Linked DNA regions of Homo sapiens: region 2 is linked to region 1. Evidence: fine-mapped expression QTL. Tissue or cell type: monocytes. Region 1 holds a variant in brackets; the other region holds the start of a gene. All regions are shown on one strand. Distances are between the middles of the regions.

Region 1 (10,515 bases):
TCTAATTTTTATTATATTTGTACCCTAAAATACACTGTGGTTTGTAAGTGGTATAAAACTTAGGCTTAAGCAGTTTGTAAGGAAAAAAAATCTATGTAGTTTCTTGTATTCAAGTGTCAAAATAATAATACTGAATTTGTAAGAGGTTTTAGTGTTACCTAGCCATAGCAAGAGGTATGACTAGAATGCCCTGCAATTGTATATTGAGAAAGCTAATGCAGTCCTTTTTTTTTTTTTTTTTTTTTTTGAGACCAAGTCTTGCTCTGTTGCCCAGGCTGGAATGCAGCGACACAACCTCGGCTCACTGCAACCTCTGCCTCCTGGGTTCAAGTGGCTCCCCTGCCTCAGCCTTCCAAGTAGCTGGGATTACATGCACACACCGCCATACCTGGCTGATTTTTGTATTTTTAGTAGAGATGGGGTTTCACCATGTTGGCCAGACTGGTCTCGAACTCCTGAGCTCAGGTGATCTTCCCGCCTCGGCTTCCCAATGTGCTGGTATTACAGGTGTGAGCCACTGCACCTGGCCGTCAATTCTTTATAGAATGAATTTTAAAAATTTATCTGCAGTGTTCATTGCTTGGGTTATTGAGGGAAATTACACAAATAAAACTTGTATATGAATACTTCATGTCTCTTTGCAATCTTTAATTCACTGAAAGCCTCAGAGTCTTTAGAAGAACTGTGGATTTTAGGTGATTCACATAATGGGCAAATGAGTCTATCTACAAGAGGACAGCCAAAATGGGGGCAGGTTCTGGAAAATAAGTCCTGTGAAGAAGAATTCAGGAGAAATGGATATATGGAACCTGGAAAGGGACAACCAAACATATACATTGTTAAAGCTATTTAAAGAGTAGTCATACAGTATTGTGTGTACCTCCAGTGGGCAGAACTGGCTATTAAGTACAACATACAATAAAGCAGATTTAGGTTTAATATAAGGAAGAACAATTCAAGCTTTTAAGCAAAGAGAAAGTTTATTTCACAAAGATGTGAATGTCATATCACCAAAAGCAATTAAGCAGAGCCCAGGCAAGCATCTGTAAAGGATGTTGTATTAATAGAAATGATCCCTCTTTCTGTCAGTAGGGGTTGTACCAGGTAACCTCAGTGTTTTCTAATTGTGAGATTTTAGACTTGGCTGAAATGATTGGTTTAACTTTGCTTCAGATGTTTAGACCTGCATCTTTAATATTGTGTTGGCCAGTAAGTCTTGAGTCTACCTTTTTGTTTCCAGAATCACCTCTAGTGCAAAAATAAATAAATAAATAAATAAATAAATAAATAAAAGAGATTTGGACCCCAACTCCAACCTTTGAGAATTTTATTCAGGGAGACAGGGATGATAACCAGTTTCTGTTTATTGTGGTAAAATATACATAACATACAATTTACCATTTTAACCATTTTAAGTGATGTGGCATTAAGTACATTCACATTGTTGTGCAGCATCATTACTCTCCATCTCCAAAACTTTTTCATCATCTCATACTGAAACCTGTACCTGTTAAATAATAACTCTCCATTTTCTTCTCCCACTAGCCCAGGTAACCACCGTTTCTACTTTTGTCTTTATGAATTTGACTATTCTAGGTACCTAGGTGACACAATATTTGTCCTTCTGTGTGTAGCTTAGTTCACTTAGCATAATGTTTTCTAGATTCATCCATGTTGTAGCATGTATCCAAATTTCCTTCTTTTCTAAGGCCGAATAATATTCCATTGTACGTATATACCATGTTTTAATTCAGCCATCCATGGACATGTGGGTTGTTTCTACCTTTTGTTTATTGTAAATAATGCTGCTGTGAACATTGGTATCTGAGTCCCTGCTTTCAATTCTTTGGGGTATGTACCCAGAAATGGAATTGCTGGATCATACCATAATGCATGTTTAATTTTTGTTGGAACTGTCATCCTTTTTTCCACAGCAGCTGCACCATTTTACATTCCTGCTAGCAGTGCACAGGGATTCTAATTTTCCAACATCCTTGCCAACGCTTGTTTTCTGTTTTAGCTGTCTGTAACAAAAATACCATAGACTGGGTGGTTTAAACAACAAACATTTATTTCTCACAGTTTGAGAGGCTGGGAATTCTAAGAGAAGGTGCAAGGTGCCAGCAAATCCAGTGTGTGATGAGGATACTGTTCCTGCTTTACAGATGACCATCTTTCCATTCCATTTTCACATGGTAAAAGGCTGGAGCAAGACCTTTCATGTCTCTTCTTATAAGAGCACTAATCCCACTCTTGAGGGCTCTACTTTAATGACCTCATTACCTCCCAAAGGCCCCACCTTCTAAGACCATCATATTGAGGCTTAGCATTTCAACATATGAATTCTGGGGAGACTTAAACATTCAGTTCGTAGTGATAGCCATCCCAATGGGTGTGAAGTGGTGTCTCATTGTGGTTTTGATTTGCATTTCCCTAATGATTAGTGATGTTGAGCATTTTTGTGTGTGCTTACTGGTCATCTGTATATTTTCTTTGGAGAAATGTCTATTAAAGTTTCTGCCCATTTTAAATCAGGTTCATTTTTGTTGTCATTGCTCAGTTTTTAGGAGTTTTCTACATACAGTTGACCCTAGAACAACACGGGTTTTAACTGCACAGGTCCACTTATACTTGGATATTTTCCAAGAAATATAGTGGGAAATTTTTTGGAAATTTGAAAAAGTTTGAAAAAACTCACAAATGAACCCCATAGCCTAGAAATATTGAAAAAATTAAGAAAAAGTTATATATGTCATGAATGCATAAAATATATGTAGATATTAGTCTAGTTTGTAATTTACTACCATAACATGTATACAAACCTATTATTAAAAAGTTAAAATTTAGCAAAACTAACATACATACTTACAGACCGTACATGGCACCATTCACAGTCAAAAGAAACGTAAACCAAAATAAAGATGCAGTATTAAATCATAACTGCATAAAATTAACTGTAGTGTGTACCGTACTACTGTGATAATTTTGTAGCTACTTCCTGTTGCTATTGCGGTGAGCTCAAGTGTTGAGAGGATCCACTTAAAATGCTGTATGTTGCTAATCATCTCCATGTGAGCCATTCATCTCTCCAGTAAATTGCTTATTGCAGTAAAAAGTGATGTCTCGTCATGCTTGCATATTTTTCATCATGTTTAGTGCAATACCATAAACCTTGAATAACATCCTACAATCCATAAAAATGCCACTAGCGATACTAGAAGTGCTCTCAAGAAACAATGTCATGACATTGTAAGAAAAATTCGAATTGCTTGATGTGTACCACAGATTGAGGTTTGTAGCTGCTGTTGTCCACCATTTCAGACAGATCCATATTGTAAACAAATGATGTAATTTATGGTATTGATAAATACTACAGTACTGTAAATGTGTTTTCCTTATGGTTTTCTTAATATTTTCTTTTCTCCACTTTATTGTAAAAATACAGTATATAATACATGTAACATACAACATATGTGTTAATTGTTGGCTGTTGGTAAGGCTTCTAGTTAACAGTAGGCTATTAGTAGTTAAGTTTTTGGGTAGACAAGGGTTATACATAGATTTTCCACTGTGTAGGGGGTTGGCACCCCTAACCCCCATGTTGTTTCAAGGGTCAACTGTGCTAGAATCCTTACACCTAACTAATACATAAAAATATACTGATATACATTTTCAAGAAATGTGTATTTCTAGCATCATCTAAATGTGGAGTTGGAGTTTATTAAACTCATTTATTTTGTTTGACATTATTTTTAGTACCAGAGGTAAATAAGCTTTGCTTTTGTTATTTGGTCATAAAATATAAAAATCTCAGTAAAAATATTGATAACAGGCCAGGCGCGGTGGGTCACGCCTGTAATCTCAACACTTTGGTGTTGAGCCAACACTTTGGCCAAGGCGGGGGCATCACGAAGGTCAGGAGTTCAAGATCAGCCTGGCCAACATGGTGAAGCCCCATCTCTACTAAAAATATAAAAAAATTAGCCAGGCATGGAGGTGCGGGCCTGTAATCCCAGCTACTCAGGAGGCGGAAGCAGGAGAATCGCTTGAACCTGGGAGGCGGAGGTTTCAGTGAGCTGAGATTGCACCATTGCACTCCAGCCTGGGCAATAGAGTGAGATTCCATCTCCAAAAAAAAAAAAAAAAAAAAATAGGTAGATAGATAGATAGACAGACAGACAGACAGATAGATAACAGTGTTTCTGGAAAAGAGATATGGAATTTGGTTTTTCTTGTGAAGATGAATTCTTTCCTGGTTCAAATGAGAAGGTTGTATAAGATGTCCTTTCATTCTCTTTTAGTTCTAAAGTTCTATGGCTCTACAATAGTTTTTTAAAAACCTAATTGAACAACTAATAACAGGTGAAATGTGATAATTTTAGTGAACATCCATAAATATTTCATAAGTACACTAGATGTATTGAAAAATAAGTATTTCTCTATTCTTTATTTTTATTTTCGTGTACCTCTCATTAAGTACTCCCTCCTTTGTTTTTGTTAAATAGGCTGCCTCTAAGAATCAAACTTCACTCTTGGGAGAACCACCAAAAGAAATTCGGCTCAGTAAAAATCCATACTTGAATTTGGCAAGTGTGTTGCCCAGTGTGTGCTTATCATGTAAGTAGGGGCTCAGTATTCTTGTTGTGGAGTTTTACTGAATACTTTTCATAATAAGTTTTACTTTAATTTTTGACTTCATGGAAGCAAATAATACCTATTGACCAAATTAAGGCCTAAATTATTCTTTAAATTGAAAGAATAATTAAAACTAAGACACTCAAAATGCGTGCTATTTTATTTAAGGAAAACATTACAACTCATAGAGAGTCATTTTTCTTAACCAGAAGTTTAAACCTATAAGTAATCTTATATATCTTGAGTATTTGAATACTCCCAGAATGTATGAGCTACCAATAATTGGTGGAAGTGGAATTCTCATTTACATTTTGGAGGAAACCCTCAAGCCTTCAATTACTATAAATCAACTATTCATTCAAATATCGTTTTAAGAGAAAATCACAAATGTGATGTGCTCCAGGCACAAGGATGTTCACTGCAACATTGGTTGTAAATAGTGGGAAAACTGGAAAATACTTAATATTTGTCAATAGGGGAATGCTTAAATAGTTCATCATAAAATTGAATACTGTGCAACTTTTTTTTTAATAATTGAGGGATATCTACATATACTGATATGAGATGAACTCTAAAGCATATTTTGGCAAATATATGCATAAAATGATTCCATTTATGTTTATTTAAAGTTATATATCCTTACATGTATATACTTGAGAGTGCAAATGCATGAAGTAAATCCAAAAAAGTAAATTCTAAACTATTACCTCTGGGAAGAAGAATAGGATTAAATGAAAAGAGATGAAAGATGAATTTCATTTTTAATATACATCCTCTGTATTTTATGAAATATCCTTGAATCCAAACATTAATTTGTAATTTTTTTTGAGCTGGAAAAAAATGTAAAGGCACTTCTAGTATACCTGTTATATATTGATCTGGTCTAAAAATTGATGGTGACAATTATTACATTTATAAGAATGGTTAGTTTACATTTTATATGCCTTGTTTTAGAGACTA[GACACACACAC/G]ACACACACACACACACACACACACACACACACACACGTTTTGTTTTGGGTTATTTATTTATTTATTTTTTTATTATACTTTAAGTTTTAGGGTTTTGCTTTTTTGAGACAAGGTCTCCCTCTGTCACCCAGGCTGGAGTGCTGTGGTGTGATCTTGGCTACTGCAGCCTACACCTCCTGGGCTCAAGTGATCCTCCTAACTCAGCCTCCCGAGTAGGTGGGACTACAGGCATGTGCCACCATGCCCAGCTAATTTTGTGTGTGTGTGTGTTTGTGAGACAGAGTCTTGCTCTGTCACCCAGTCTGGAGTGCAGTGGCATCATCTCGGCTCACTGCAACCTCCACTTCCTGGGTTCAAGCAATTCTTATGTCTCAGCCTCCCAAGTAGCTGGGATTACAGTCATGCACCACCATTCCTGGCAAATTTTTATATTTTTAGTATTTTTATAGAGATGGGGTTTCACCATGTCACCTAAGCCAATCTCGAACTCCTGGGCTCAAGTGATCCTCCCACCTTGGCCTCTCAAAGTGCTGGAATTACAGGCATGAGCAACCGTGCTCAGCCAGACATATATGTTTTTGAACCTTTCCACCAAAATTATTTACCCATGAGACAGGTGTCCATTTTAAGTTGTTCCAAATGAATAAGACAGTATTATATACTTCTCAGGGGAAAATTATTTAGTTATATATTGGCAAACTAAAATTTTGTTCTATTTGATAATGTGCTGAGTTACAATTTATAATAAAATATAATTTGTTTATAATATAACTTATAATAAAATAATTTATTTAAAATAACCTAAATAAAATAAATTTATAATAAAATAACCTAAATAAAATAAACTTGTTGATTCTGCCTTTAGCCCCTGCAAGTAAAACCACTCTTCATAAGACTGGAATTGCAAGCAGCATTCTGGATGCAATCTCTCAGGGAAGTGAATCACAACACGCATTGGAAAAGTGCATTGCTTATTCTCCACCTTTTGGTGATTATGCACAGGTAAATAATTCCCAGGTTCTGATGATACTCAGAAAAATTGGTTCAACTATATATTGAGTTCACTGAATATGAAATTGTGATTTCTATATTATTAACGTAGGCAAATCAAATTGCACTGATCTATGTATTTCTTACTCATCATTTGAAATTTGGGAATGTGTTCAAGACATTATTTAGTATCATTTTGCACTAGATATTTACCTCTCACTGTTTACCTAGTGGTTGGCAAACTACAGCCCATAGAACAAATCTAGCCCACCACCTGGTTTTGTAAATAAATTTGTATTGTAATACAGCCATGTCCATTCATTAACATATTGTCTATGGTGCTGTCATGCTATAATAAAAGAGTTGAGTGATGACAGTAGAGACTATGTGGCCTGCAAGATTAAATATTTACTATCTGGTTCTTTATAGAAAAATGCTGCTAACCTCTGGTTTGCACTAGTGTAGACCTAAGAAACCCAAGGGAATGCCTCTGTTCTTCTCCACTGATTGTAGATGGAGAAAGATGATCATATTTACAGACACTACTGTGCTAACTTCTAAACCAGCCAATCAATAACATAAAAATATTATGTTCATAAGATGTCCTGTGTCATTACTTAAATATTTCAGTTTTGCTTTGGCCCTTCTTCAGCTTACTCTTAGTGGTGTAAGCTGAATATATATCATGTTAGCCCTGTGTGATTATGGAATCATAAGAGTCCACAAGAGTCTTATAATTATCAGTTCTGACTCTTACTTTCCTAGAACAGCCAGCTTCTTCTCAGATCTATCCTGTTCGTTGGAGTCTTGTCTCCACTTTGATTTCCCTGGAGCAGCTTTGTGTTTGCCTGACCCATCCCTAATAAACTTAGAAAAGAAAACCACTTAGAACAATTGACGCCTGATTATAAGAGTACTAGAAACAGCCCAAGTTCTGTAAAAATGGTGCAGCTGGATATTAGTGAAATATTTGCCATCTCTTATATACCTGGGACAAGACGGAAAAATATGGGTTGGGTAGATGATGTAATTAGGTGACAGTATATCTATATTTAGAGAACAGTGATCACAAATTGCTGCAGTCTGAAGGCATTCTCTTATATTGATTCATAAGAGTCATCTTCAGTCCTTTATTAGATAACATTTGAAGTAATGACTTAGATAAAGACATTAATTGTAAAATTTACAAGATATAGTCCTGTACAATTCCAATTTGTTTCTTTTCAAGAAACAAACTTTTTATAAACAGGAGAAGCACAATAAATTTTTTAAAAATTCATTAAATACATATTTAAGCTTTAAAAATTTTTTGAACTTTTATTTCTTTTTAAATTTGCCTTTTTCTTAGCAGTTTTGCTTATTAGATTACTGTGATTTATTGTATACTTATATCCATGGAAAGACTTTCTCATTCACACATGGAGAAATTCTGTGATAATGATGCCTTTTGCATTACTGTATGTCTTCTGCCTCCACACTTGCTTGCCCAGAGATATGGTGGGGAAATGAATCCTCCCTGCACTGTTCAGTGTCTCCTTTGACAGTCCCTGCTTCTAGCGCACGCTTGTTCATAAAATGGGATTTGTTCTCTCTCTCGTGTTCTTTCTTCCTTATAAACTTAATTAAATGTTACTAATGGAACATTAAAGTACATGGAATTAAACTAATGGAATACTAAAATAACCATTATAGAAAAAGGTGGTCGTGTATTAGGAATTCCTTTTACTATTTCCACTGCTGGGATGAAGGAAGAGGTCTAAGGGAAAGGAACCAAAAGTGTTTGTTTTCTTTTTAACACTTGCTATATGCTTTGTGACATAAGTGATTACTATTTCTAAAAACCCTGTGAGATTTAGTAAACTGGCTAGCCATATGTAGAAAGCTGAAACTGGATCCCTTCCTTACACCTTATACAAAAATCAATTCAAGATGGATTAAAGACTTAGATGTTAGACCTAAAACCATAAAAACCTTAGAAGAAAACCTAGGCAATACCATTCAGCACATAGGCATGGGCAAGGACTTCATGTCTAAAACACCAAAACCAATGGCAACAAAAGCCAAAATTGACAAATGGGATCTAATTAAACTAAAGAGCTTCTGCACAGCAAAAGAAACTACCATCAGAGTGAACAGGCAACCTACAGAAGGGAGAAAATTTTTGCAATCTACTCATCTGACAAAGGGCTAATACCCAGAATCTACAAAGAACTCAAACAAATTTACCAGCAGAAAACAAACAACCCCATCAAAAAGTGGGCAAAAGATATGAACAGACACTTCTCAAAAGAAGACATTTCTGCAGCCAACAGACACATGAAAAAATGCTCATCATCACTGGCCATCAGAGAAATGCAAATCAAAACCACAATGAGATACCATCTCACACCAGTTAGAATGGCAATCATTAAAAAGTCAGGAAACAACAGGTGCTGGAGAGGATGTGGTGAAATAGGAACACTTTTACAGTGTTGGTGGGACTGTAAACTAGTTCAACCGTTGTGAAGTTGGTGTGGCGATTCCTCAAGGATCTAGAACTAGAAATATCATTTGACCCAGCCATCCCATTACTGGGTATATACCCAAAGAATTATAAATCATGCTGCTATGAAGACACATGCACACGTATGTTTATAGAGGCACTATTCACAATAGCAAAGACTTGGAACCAACCCAAACGTCCATCAGTGATGGACTGGATTAAGAAAATGCAGCACATATGCACCATGGAATACTATGCAGCCATAAAAAAGGATGAGCTCATGTCCTTTATAGGGACATGGACGAAGCTGGAAACCATCATTCTGAGCAAACTATCACAAGGACAGAAAACCAAACACCACATGTTCTGACTCAGAGGTGAGAATTGAACAATGAGAACACTTGGAAACAGGAAGGGGAACGTCACACACTGGGGCCTGTCGTGGGGTGGGGGGAGGGGCAGGGATAGCATTAGGAGATATACCTAATGTAAATGACGAGCTAATGGGTGCAGCACACCAACATGGCACATGTATACCTATGTAACAAACCTGCACGTTGTGCACATGTACCCTAGAACTTAAAGTATAATAAAAAAAAAACCTTGTGAGATTTAAATGATCACCTTCATTATACAAATGGAGAAGGGATAAATAATCTCTCCAAGTTCATACAATTGGTAAGTGATTTCTTGATTTCAAAGGCCACATTATTTATACCATTGAGAAGTTTCTTCAGGCATGGAAGTAATATCTCAGAGAAACTGTGTAGGCTGCTCTGCTTATGGATTAGGAGAGATGAATATGTCAAGGCATAGAGGGACAAAATAATCTTTATCTCCAATAAAACTATCAGATTTAAAAACCTAATTGGCATTTCCATTATTGATGTTGTTGCTTGTATCATACTATCTCCCTACAGATAACCATTATTAAAACTGGACTAGGCTGGGCGCGGTGGCTCACACCTGTAATCCCAGCACTTTGGGAAGCAAAGATGGGCGGATCACAAGGTCAGGAGATCGAGACCATCCTGGCTAACATGGTGAAACCCCATCTCCACTAAAAATACAAAAAATTAGCCGGGCGTGGTGGTGGGCGCCTGTAGTCCCAGCTACTTGGGAGGCTGAGGCAGGAGAATGGCGTGAACCCAGGAGGCGGAGGTTGCAGTGAGCCGAGATTGCGCCACTGCACTCCAGCCTGGGCGACAGAGTGAGACTCCGTCTCAAAAGAACAACAAAACAAAACTGGACTAAATATGAATGAAAACCAACTACTTGAAAGCACTAGAGAATGAATGACCAAAAGCAGGCAGAAACGGGAGAATTATTCCTTGAAACAGGAAAACATCACTGTATGGTATTTGTGTTTCTGTAGCTTTTTGCCTAATACCACTCCCTAGATGGAGAAAGCTGCAGTCTCACTAGCTTGAGGAGTCA
Region 2 (10,515 bases), 67 kb before region 1:
CAAAAAACCAAACACCACATGTTCTCACTCATAGGTGGGAATTGAACAATGAGAACACATAGACACAGGGTGGGGAACATTACATACTGGGGCCTGTTGTGGAGTGGGGGGAGAGGGAGGGATAACATTAAGAGATATACCTAATGTAAATGATGAGTTAATGGGTGCAGCACACCAACATGGCACATGTATACTTATGTAACCAACCTGCATGTTGTGCACATGTACCCTAAAACTTAAAGAATAATAAAAAAATAAATAAATAAATAAACTTTAAAAAATTACCACCAATATTTAAAAAAATAAAGGCTAAAGCTAGCATAGGGCTCATATTTTAATAACATGGTCATTATATAGATCATGATAATTACCTGTGGGTATTGGTAAATACATTGCTGCTTGATAATTGTACTTCACTTCAAGTTCAGATTAGAGTGTTCCTTTAGTATGCCATGGAAGCAGCTATTTAAAGAGTCAGGCTAAACCTGGCATGAGAGGAACTCTTTGGAATTACAGTAGCATTCCAAAGTCTTTGCAGTTTCCATCCAGTTCTTTTATGTGGCAATAACAATTAATTCAGTTTAAAATTATTTTTAACCAGTAGATTCTGCCATTTCCCTTAATTCCTTGAAAACAGTTGAGCAAATGTAAAACATACTTGATTTGAAATCTAGGGCAGTGTTTTTCGAAATGTGAGTAAGGACTCATTAGTGATATGCAAAATCGACTGTGTAATTCAAGCAATTTTAAAATGGAATGGAATAGAATAGGAAATACTAGAATGTGCTACATGATGAAGGAGCGTGATGTTTTGTGAAATCTTCATTTCGATTGTGTGTGTGTTTACTAAATTGTGATATAAAATATATTTCCCACTGTGGCATATATTTCCCACTAGATTGGGTCAAAAAAGTTTGAAAGCCACTACCCTATACGACGTAGCAATATTGCACAAGGAGTGGGATCAATTCAAAGTAGCCACTTAATAAAATTGGCTTAATAATTTGATAACATTGTAATCATGTCCCCATTGGGGCCAAAACTGGAATTACATTATCATAACTCCCAAAACATAATCAACACCTGATTCATTCACCAGACTTAACCTCAAATAACATTTAATTATTTCCAAAAATTAAACCCATCTCTAAGAGGTGAGTATTTGCTACCACATAAACTATGCAGAATAATTTGCTGTAGATTATAAAGTCAATTCCAAAAAAGCACTTTGGGGCTGGGCGTGGTGGCTCACGCCTGTAATCCCAGCACTTTGGGAGGCCGAGGCGAGCGGATCATGAGGTCAGGAAATCAAGACCATCCTGGCTAACATGGTGAAACCCCGTCTCTACTAAAAATACAAAAAATTAGCTGGGCTTGGTGGCACACGCCTGTAGTCCCAGCTACTCTGGAGGGTAAGGCAGGAGAATCGCTTGAACCTGGGAGGCGGAGGTTGCAGTGAGCCAAGATCACGCCACTGCACTCCAGCCTGGGCAACAGAGCAAGACTCCGTCACAAAAGAAAAAAAAAAAGCACTTTGGAGAATGTTTTGAGCAAAAGCAATCACTGAAGTTATATTCAGACCACTATCCGTTTGCATATTTATTATATTTAATTATAATCATTGCATAATTTTCTCTCAGTGAGACTTAGCCCCTATTGTACAGGAGCATTATTTTACTATTTCTGTCTTCTTATTGCCTTTATATATTATCTAGCACATAAGGGACATTTAATAAATGTTTGCCAAGGAGGTGGTACTCATTTGGATAAATACATGTTCTGAAACATAATGAATGACTCAAGGTTACAGCCTATGCTAAGGCTATTCATGCTTCTTCACTTCAAAGAATGTACTTTTCAAAGTCTCTCAGCTCTACAAAATAGGGCCTTATTGGAGTTTAAAATGTATACCTTTTAAAATCAAAGGAATACAATTTAAAAGCAAAATGATACATTAATACTAGAATATCATGGATGCAAGCAGAGAAATAAGTGCTCTTATACAATGCTTGTGATAGGGAAAACTGAGGTAAGTTTGTAAATACATACAAAAAATCCTTAAATATGCTTACTCTAGATGCAGAAATTTTGCTTCTAGTTCTTCACTCTGTGGAAAAGTAATGATCTTCAAATATGTATAGAGGGTTAAACTCAGTGCTGTTTACAATAGATAAAAATAATAGGAAATACTAATGCTAGGAAATAAGTGAATTTTCTAATTCAACAGAATAATATGCAGCCATAAAAACCATGGTATTCAAATACATTGGCATAGAAAGGGATTCAGCAGACATACTGTAAAAAGCAGAAAACAGAGCTGTAAACTACAGAATATCATTCAAAAACATTTTTATGCAGTAATAGTCACGTAATAAAATTAATATTTTAAAAGTGAATAGTTCAGTGACTATTTAGTACATTCATATTATTGGGCTACTGCCCCCTCTGTCTAGTTCCAAAACTAGATTTTCATCATTCCATAAGGATGTTTGCACCCATTACCTTCTCCTCCAGCCCTTGGTAAACACCAATCTGTGTTCCGCTCTATGAATCTACCTATTCTGATATTTTATACGCATGGAATCATACAATATATGACCTTTTGTCTCTGGCTTCTTTCATTTAATGCTTTGGAGGTTCGTCCACCTTGTAGGGGTCCTTAATTCCTTTTTATGGCTAAAAATATTTCTTAGCATATATATATCCCACGCTTTGCCTATCTGTTCATCAATAAATGGACATTTGGGTTGTTTCTATCCTTTGGTTACCAGGAATAGTGGTGGTATAGAAGGGTGTATTGCCGAATATCATTTTAATGATACAAGTATTAGCAGCCATTATTTTTGGGTGGACGGATTACGGGTGAATTATTTTATGTTATTCAGAACACTGGGCTTTGGAATCAATCAGAACAGATCCCATTTCCTCACGTGTAAAGTGAGGAAAACAAAACCTACGTAATTGAATGATCATGAAGAGTAAATAAATATGTATATGTAAAGCATTTAGAAATGCGTGGTTGGGGGGAGCACATGGTAAGGACTGAATTTGTAGTATTTTTAAAAAATCTTTAAAACATTTTGTTTTTCTTTTAATTAGTGTTAAAGTCTTTTTTTTTTTTTTTTTTTTTTTTTTGCTAGTGTACTTGCATGCTACACAATTAAGATGCATGGTCCCCTTCGCTGATGGTCACCTGGGCTAGTGCCAAAGGCTGCTGGATTGTTTGATCTGATGACATCCGTTTGACTAAGTATAGTTCTACACTGTAACTCTCCCTCCAAGTTTCAATTAAAATAATGTTCCAAGCAGCGTATTCTCCAGCCCCTCTGCCACAGCTCCTTTTCCATTCTAGTCTTTGTTTCAGCATCACTTTCCATGTTGCAGACCCAACTACCCAGGTTTTACATTTTAGGAACTGCATGACAGGGACAGAGGGACAGGTGAAGGGCACAGGCTTTCTCATACACAGCTAGCAAAATACATTACGATCAGGTTTTACCAAATACATAACATTTCTCCCACAATGTCCCTCTTTTTACTCCCCAGAAAATCTCATTGTAAACTCAAACTTTGCCAAATATGCTCTTCTTGAACCAACAGAAGGGTTACCATCGGGAGCCAGCCGGGCTGCAGGAGGCGCCCTCCTGCCACCCCTCCAGCCCCATCTCGGGTGTGGGAAGACCGAGTTCGCGCCCGCAGCCCCCGGGCCGCCCCAGCGCGGGAGTTTCGAGGGGAGCCGGGGGAGAGCTGCGGCGTCACATGGGGGGCCAGCCGGGGACAGGCGCCTGGGGCTGAGTCTCCCGGCGAAGCCACCGCGAAGGGGCCGCATCCCCCAGAGAACGACCCTGGGCGTTCGCGAAGGCCTCGCAGAGAGGGGGAGCCCGCCTGCGCGTCCGCGCCCTCACAGGTGTCCGGGTGGCGGCGCCCGGCCCCGCCTGCGGACCCGCGAGAGGCGGGCGCGGGCGCGCCTGTGCGCCGGGGCCGGGGGCCGGCGGGGGAGGTTCCCGCGAGGTGGTTCTCGGGCTCCTCCTCGGCGCCTCAGGTTTCCTCTCCCCGCCAGCAGGCTGCTGGCTGCGGCGCCGCCTCTCTCTACTCCCTCCTCCCACCGCCCCCCTTCCCCGCGGTTGGGCCCACTCTGCGGCCTCTGCCCGCCTCGCCCTCGCCCGGGCCTCCTCCCGCTTTCTCTCTCCGCTTCCCCTGGAGCCTCCGAGGAGTCCGCAGCCGCTGGGCGCCCGGGAAGATGGCGGCGGCGGCGGGAGACGGCGGCGGCGAGGGGGGCGCGGGCCTGGGCAGCGCGGCGGGGCTGGGGCCGGGGCCGGGGCTGCGCGGGCAGGGCCCCTCAGCCGAAGCGCACGAGGGCGCCCCGGACCCGATGCCCGCCGCGCTGCACCCTGAGGAGGTCGCCGCGCGACTGCAGCGGATGCAGCGGGAGCTGAGCAACCGCAGGAAAATCCTGGTGAAAAACCTGCCCCAGGACAGCAACTGCCAGGTACTGGGACGGTGATAGGGGCGACGCGTCCCGAGGGGCGGCGGGGCGGCGCTCCGTGTCCAGGCTGGGATCGGGGGCGCCTCAGAGCGGTCCTGGGGAGTGGGTCGGCGCCGAGTGGTGAGAGCGGCCCCTCGGTTTGACTGAGTTCTTGGGGTTTCTAGCCTGCAGACGCCCTGCCAGGGAGGGGGGCAGATTGGGAAACTGAGGCTCTGAGTGGCGAAGCGGCTTCTCCAAGGTCACGGGAATCAGGGGCTGCTGCCTCCAAGTTCGGCCCGGTCTTTCCTTCCCCTACGGCCGTAGAGGAGTAGGAGGTGAAGGAGAGTGGAGGTGAGTTGTGGAGCACACATTTTGCGGGGGGGAGCGGGGGTAGAGGGGGCCGAAGCTTCGGGAGCACCTTGGCAGGGGCGAGGGCTCCAACGTATAGTCCCCGGTGCTCGGGAGTGCCATAGGGGGCAGGGGCACGAGAGAGCTGGGAGTGAGTTTCGCTGTTGTTGCAGAAGCACTTGCCCAAGTTTCTATGAAACAACTCTGTCTTCTCAGTTTGCTAAGGCCCCAGAATAGAGTTATTGCTGCGCTCCTTGGAGCCTTGCAGCCGCCTCCTGCTACGCCAAGTACAGTACTGGAGGGTTTGTTCTCAGTGACTTGGATGAGGTTTAAAGATAGCTACTCTGTGTATTTAATCCAGATTAACTGTTGCTTTTAAGATTAGAAACTCTGCATCTATTTAACTTTTTTTTTCCCCTGATTTCAAAAGCTGCATGCTCATTGTAGGAGAGCTAGGAAAGACAGAGAAGCACAAAGGGGACACAGAAATTACCCATATTTCTGATACCTGAAGATAACCATTGTTATCCTGGGATGTTGTTCTTTTCTCTTTTCCTATGCATATATATTTTTGTTTTATCAAAAGCTTGAAATCATTTCTTTGATTCTTCAGGATTTCTTAGCTGTCTGGATGTTCACACATGTTTCACATATAACCTGAATTTATATACTGCTCCGAGTGTGGTGGGCTGTCCTGGTAGTTGCGGATTTGTAGTTCCTCCTGTAACCGGATGCATGAAATTGCAAGAGGGCTGGCTATTGACAATTGCATGGCAGTTCTTCCATGTGACTTATAAAATAATGAGACCAATGCCCCATTACTATGTAATGAGACCTTACATAGCCATTCACAATAAATATGAACATATAACCTTATAACCCGTAGGCATGGGGGGCTATTTTGTTTCAAAATGCAGTGTCTGTCAGTATTGTTTATCTCATCTGTCTTTCAACTCTTTCCATTCCGCCATGGTCCACTTCCCATCTGTCAGGTAATGTTTTGTGATACTACCTGTTAAGGACACCTGCAATGGACTGATTTCTTGGAAGCAGCCTCCCCTGCCCATACAAATAGAGGACTGTAAGGGAGCTCAGGAAGGAGGAGGCTTGGAAGAAGCAGATGGCATTTTTTAAAAAAACAAATTTAAAAAATAGCAGCTCTTTGTATAGACAGTCTAGGAGGAGAGAAATAGAGAAGTATCTCAATGTCTTTGTAGAATGTCAGCTGTTTTTGTTATCACAATTCCTTGCATTAATTCTAAATATATTTAGACCCCAAATTGAAGACGTTCTGTCTATTCTTGCTTTGCTGTTGGTATCTTTCTCATTTCCCTTCGCAATAGACATGAAAAATATATCAAAGGGTCTAATAAAAGGAGCAGTTTTAATTAGTGATAGAAGCTTTCTCAGAATTACACTGGGATTTGTATTTTTGAGATTTCATCTACTTAAACTAATATTTTCATATGTTCTGCATGAATTTTTTTGTATTTTTTGTTTTAACAATTTCCCTTAATTATAATGTCTGCTTTTTCTTAGTGACTATATTTTACTGTCAACTTACTGATGAAAGTTTCACTTTATTTTATTTTGTGTCTTTTTGCTAGTAAGGCCTACATAAAATCACCTGTGCTAAAACTACATATTTACCCTTATGAAATGGTTAATATGGCTTTTGTTCAATTATTAAGTAATCAGATATTTTTGAAATACTAAGTTCTTGTTCTTTTCCAGAAGAGACTGTGTTTATTCATTCATTTCTTTCTTTCTTTTTTTTTTTTTCTGAGACAGAGTCTCGCTCTGTCATCCAGGCTGGAGTGCAGTGGCGCGACCTCAGCTCACTGCAACCTCTGCCTCCCAGGTCCAAGTGATTCTCCCTGCCTCAGCCTCCCAAGTAGCTGGGATTACATAAGCCTGCCACCATGCCTGGCTAATTTTTGTATTTTTTAGTAGAGATGTGGTTTTGCCATGTTGACCAGGCCGGTCTTGAACTCCTGACCTCAGGTGATCCCACACGCCTCGGCCTCCCAAAGTGCTGAGATTACAGGTGTGAGCCACTGTGCCTGGCCTCATTTCTTTATTTTAGAATATCACTTTAAGGATCAAAGACATTCATAACTCTAGTTCTCAAACTGTGTATTTATGTCTCTAGAAAATACTGATCAATAACTTACTAGTAGAAACCCAATAATTTTTTCTTAACATTTGAAATATATGAGTGTTTTCTTTATTAAATGTAGTTTTCATAAATCTCAAATTTTGTTTTATTTTTGGTATAGCAGATTTATAATAGCATCCCACAACTTTATAGTTCCTATAATTAAAAGGCATACTGAAAGTATTTTTAACTGGAAGCTTTTAGAGGTATGTTTATCAAATACCTTATAGAAGTACCGGCTCTAAAAAAAAGTGAACACCTTTATATTAAGTTCTCAAAAGCTTTCTCACTGAATAATTACTGTGCATTCAGTCAAGCCCTGTCTGGTCTGCCTAAGCTTTCTGGAATCTTCCTGGCCCTCTTTGTTTTCACAGCCTCAGCTCTGGTTCAAGTCCTTTTCGTCTCTTGTTCACTGTTAACAACTTTTCGGTTTGTCACCTACCTTCATTACTGTCCTGTTTCTTACATTTTAGCTCCTTCTGCATGCTACTTCCCTTGAGGGATACTCCTGAAGCACAAATCTGATCATGTCACTCTCCTGCTCATAAAAAACCAGCCTTTGGCTGCACGTCCTCTCAAACTTTTCCTCAAATTGTCCTTAACAGTAAAGAACAGTGAATCTGAATTAGACTGTTGCAAGACTGAAATTGCTTTGAAGTTTTGTGTTCTGTCTGAGAATTTTATATTAATTTTATATTCTATTAGTAACATTGGATTTAACACAAAAATAGCATTTAACTCCCAATTTTTTTTCATAAACTTGACACTTATGGAAAATGTACTATATTTGACTTTTGATTCTCTGTATTTCTGTATTACCATGGAGTACACAGATATGAGTTTGAAAAGCATGAAATGATAGGACAGCAGTCTAAGATTCTTAGGCTTTTTGTGTGTTGGCCCCTGCCTACGTTTCCAGTCTCATTCCTTTTTAGTTTTTATTTATTGTTTTGAGACAGGGACTTGCTCTGTCACCTGGACTGGAGTGCGGTGGAACGATCACTGCTCACTGCAGCCTTGACCTTCCAGGCTGAAGCGATTCTCTCACCCTCTAAAGTAGCTGGGACTACAGGCATAAGCCACCATGCCAGGCTAATTTTTTTTTTTTTAATTTTTTGTAGAGACATCGTATCTCTATGTTGCCTAGGCTGGTCTTGACCTCCTGGACTCAAGCAATCCTCCTGCATTTGCCTCCCAAAGTGCTGGGACCACAGTGTGAGCCACTGCACCCAGCCATCAGTCTCATTTCTGATTAGTCCCGCATTGGATTCTGTTCATTTCTGATTAGTCTTGCATTGGATTTTTTGTTTGTTTGTTTGTTTTTTGAGACGGATTCTCACTCTGTCGCCCAGGCTGCAGTGCAGTGGTGTGACCTCGGCTCACTGCAACCTCCACCTCCTGGGTTCAAGCGATTCTTCTGCCTCAGCCTCCCGAGTAGCTGGGATTACAGGCATGTGCCACCACGCTCGGCTAATTTTTGTGTTTTTAGTAGAGACAGGGTTTCACCATGTTGGCCAGGCTGCTCTCGAATGCCTGACCTCAGGTGATCTGCCCGCCTCGGCCTCCCAAAGTGCTGGGATTACAGGCGTGAGCCACCGTGCCCGGCCAGTCCTGCATTGGATTCTATTCCACATTTATCAAACTACCTAGATCCCCAAGTACCTCATGCCACTGTGAATTGAATATTTATAGTTATATCTTTGTTTTGGAATGTATTTATAGTGAGTACTTTATAGTGAATAATATTTATAATTATTTTTAATGAATAATTTATAGTCAATAGTAATGTTGCAAATGCTGGTTCCTATTCATAGCCATTGTATATGTGTGTGTCTGGTCTTTTGCAACTGAATTTAGAATTTTGATTGGTTGAGGTAATGTTTTAATATTTTTTCTAATATATGTGTTATTGTATTTCTATAAATTGTATTACGGTTAACCTGGTTCTGTTTCAATATTGTTGTCATTGGGGTTTCAAAATGGAGAAAACAGGGGCATTTGCTTCTTAGATTATTTGTGTTCACTTAGGTTTTTTTTCTTACAGGTCTTATGTGTGTGCATGTGTTTTGTTTTTGTCATCTTGTTTACCCTAAAATCTTGAAGAGAGTCTCTTGTGAAATTAGAAGACAATGTGAAGTGCTTAGGGCCAACATTCAGGATCAGTAATAGAGGAAACAAAACATTCTATTGTCACTTTGGATATTATAAACTTACATTTCAAAGTACTCTAATATGATAGTTAATTTGAGAAGCTTGATGGTTTATTTACAGAGACCCATTTGAAACCATAATATTACCAAGTAAGCACTTTTTAGAATCACAAACAACCAAATGTAAGAAACTCTAGTTAATCTTTTTTCGTAATTAAATTTTTTTCTGCTCTTTCTCTTTTCTTTTTCTTTTCTTTTTTTTTTTTTTAAAGAGACAGAGCAAGATTTCTCTGTCTCCCAGGCTGGAGTGCAGTGGTGTGATCATAGCTTACTGCAGCCTTAACTCCTGGGCTCAAGTGATCTTTCCATCTCAGCCATCTGAGAAGTTGGGACCATAGGCATGCACCACTGTGTCCAGCTAATATTTTTTAATTTTTTGTAGAGACACGGTCTCTCTATGTTGCCCAGGCTGGTCATAATCTTATTTATAAAAGCTACGTATTCCTGTTTATACATCAGTATAAAAAAGAATTATCTTACATATTTTATGTCCTTTAACTGTGGGATTTAAAAATGTACTTTGTTTTCTCTAACAATATATTTGGTAATTATTGCCTCTTTTTAAAATAGGGCTATTATTCTCTACTTTTTTCCTGACAATATTGGGGTGTTTTCTCTTTTTGAAATTATCCTTTCTTTAAAATCAAAATGCCATTGCTTACCTCCAAAAGTTACTTTTCTTAGTGTATGCTGTGCAAAAATTATCTATTAAATTTTCTTTTCTAATGCAATTAAACAGAATTGAATTATGGGTTCTACTTCTTTTTCATGTGTTTTGTTATCCTATTCTCAATGTAACAAGAACACTGAAAGCTGCTAGGGAAATGTACTTCTAGATTTCTGGGACACCACTGTCTCCTTAAGTTTCTAGTTTTGGAAGAAATTCTTGAAAAGTGTTTGAGAAATGCAGTTCTCTGCTATGAAAACACATTCAAGAAGAGGAGGAATACTTTGTGGTTAGCATCAAAATGCTGTGTTAACAGCCATTCCAAAGAAATCTCATGTAATCTATAGCCCATTTCCCAGTTAATGACTGGGTTATGCTTAGAAATTCTTTTTTGAACTTGTGACATGTTTTCACATAGAAAGAATATAGTAGATGGTATTTAGTTTTCAGGTTAGCATTTTAGCCTCTATTTAAGTTATGATTGTTTATTAAGTGTAAGATTACACTAAGTAGTACGACAACATCTAACAAAGCTCCAGCTTTGTGCAGGAGCAGAAACTCTCCCAGCTTCAAATCATCAGTAGGTACTCCTGCATCTTATGGCAAAAGCTCAGGAAGAAGGGAATTTAAGGAAATTGCTCCTTGAATTAACAAGACTCAGATCAGG

Evidence for each region. PIP is the estimated chance that this variant, and not a neighbour inherited with it, causes the effect.
Region 2: RAVER2 starts here. The variant in region 1 is fine-mapped to the expression of RAVER2 in monocytes (BLUEPRINT, PIP 0.94).

What each region holds. Positions count from the first base shown.
Region 1 is chr1:64,808,233-64,818,747 of GRCh38, forward strand. RAVER2 (ribonucleoprotein, PTB binding 2) reads left to right here. Exons shown (of 12, transcript NM_001366165.2): 10 at 4,506-4,617; 11 at 6,472-6,608. Among named protein-coding and RNA genes, the nearest start is that of RAVER2, 68 kb to the left of the region's middle. The variant GACACACACAC/G (reference allele first, on the strand shown) is at 5,596.
Region 2 is chr1:64,740,933-64,751,447 of GRCh38, forward strand. It overlaps RAVER2 (ribonucleoprotein, PTB binding 2), which reads left to right and starts at 4,143. Exons shown (of 12, transcript NM_001366165.2): 1 at 4,143-4,489. The coding sequence starts at 4,241. RefSeq lists silencers at 3,797-3,896, 3,917-4,116.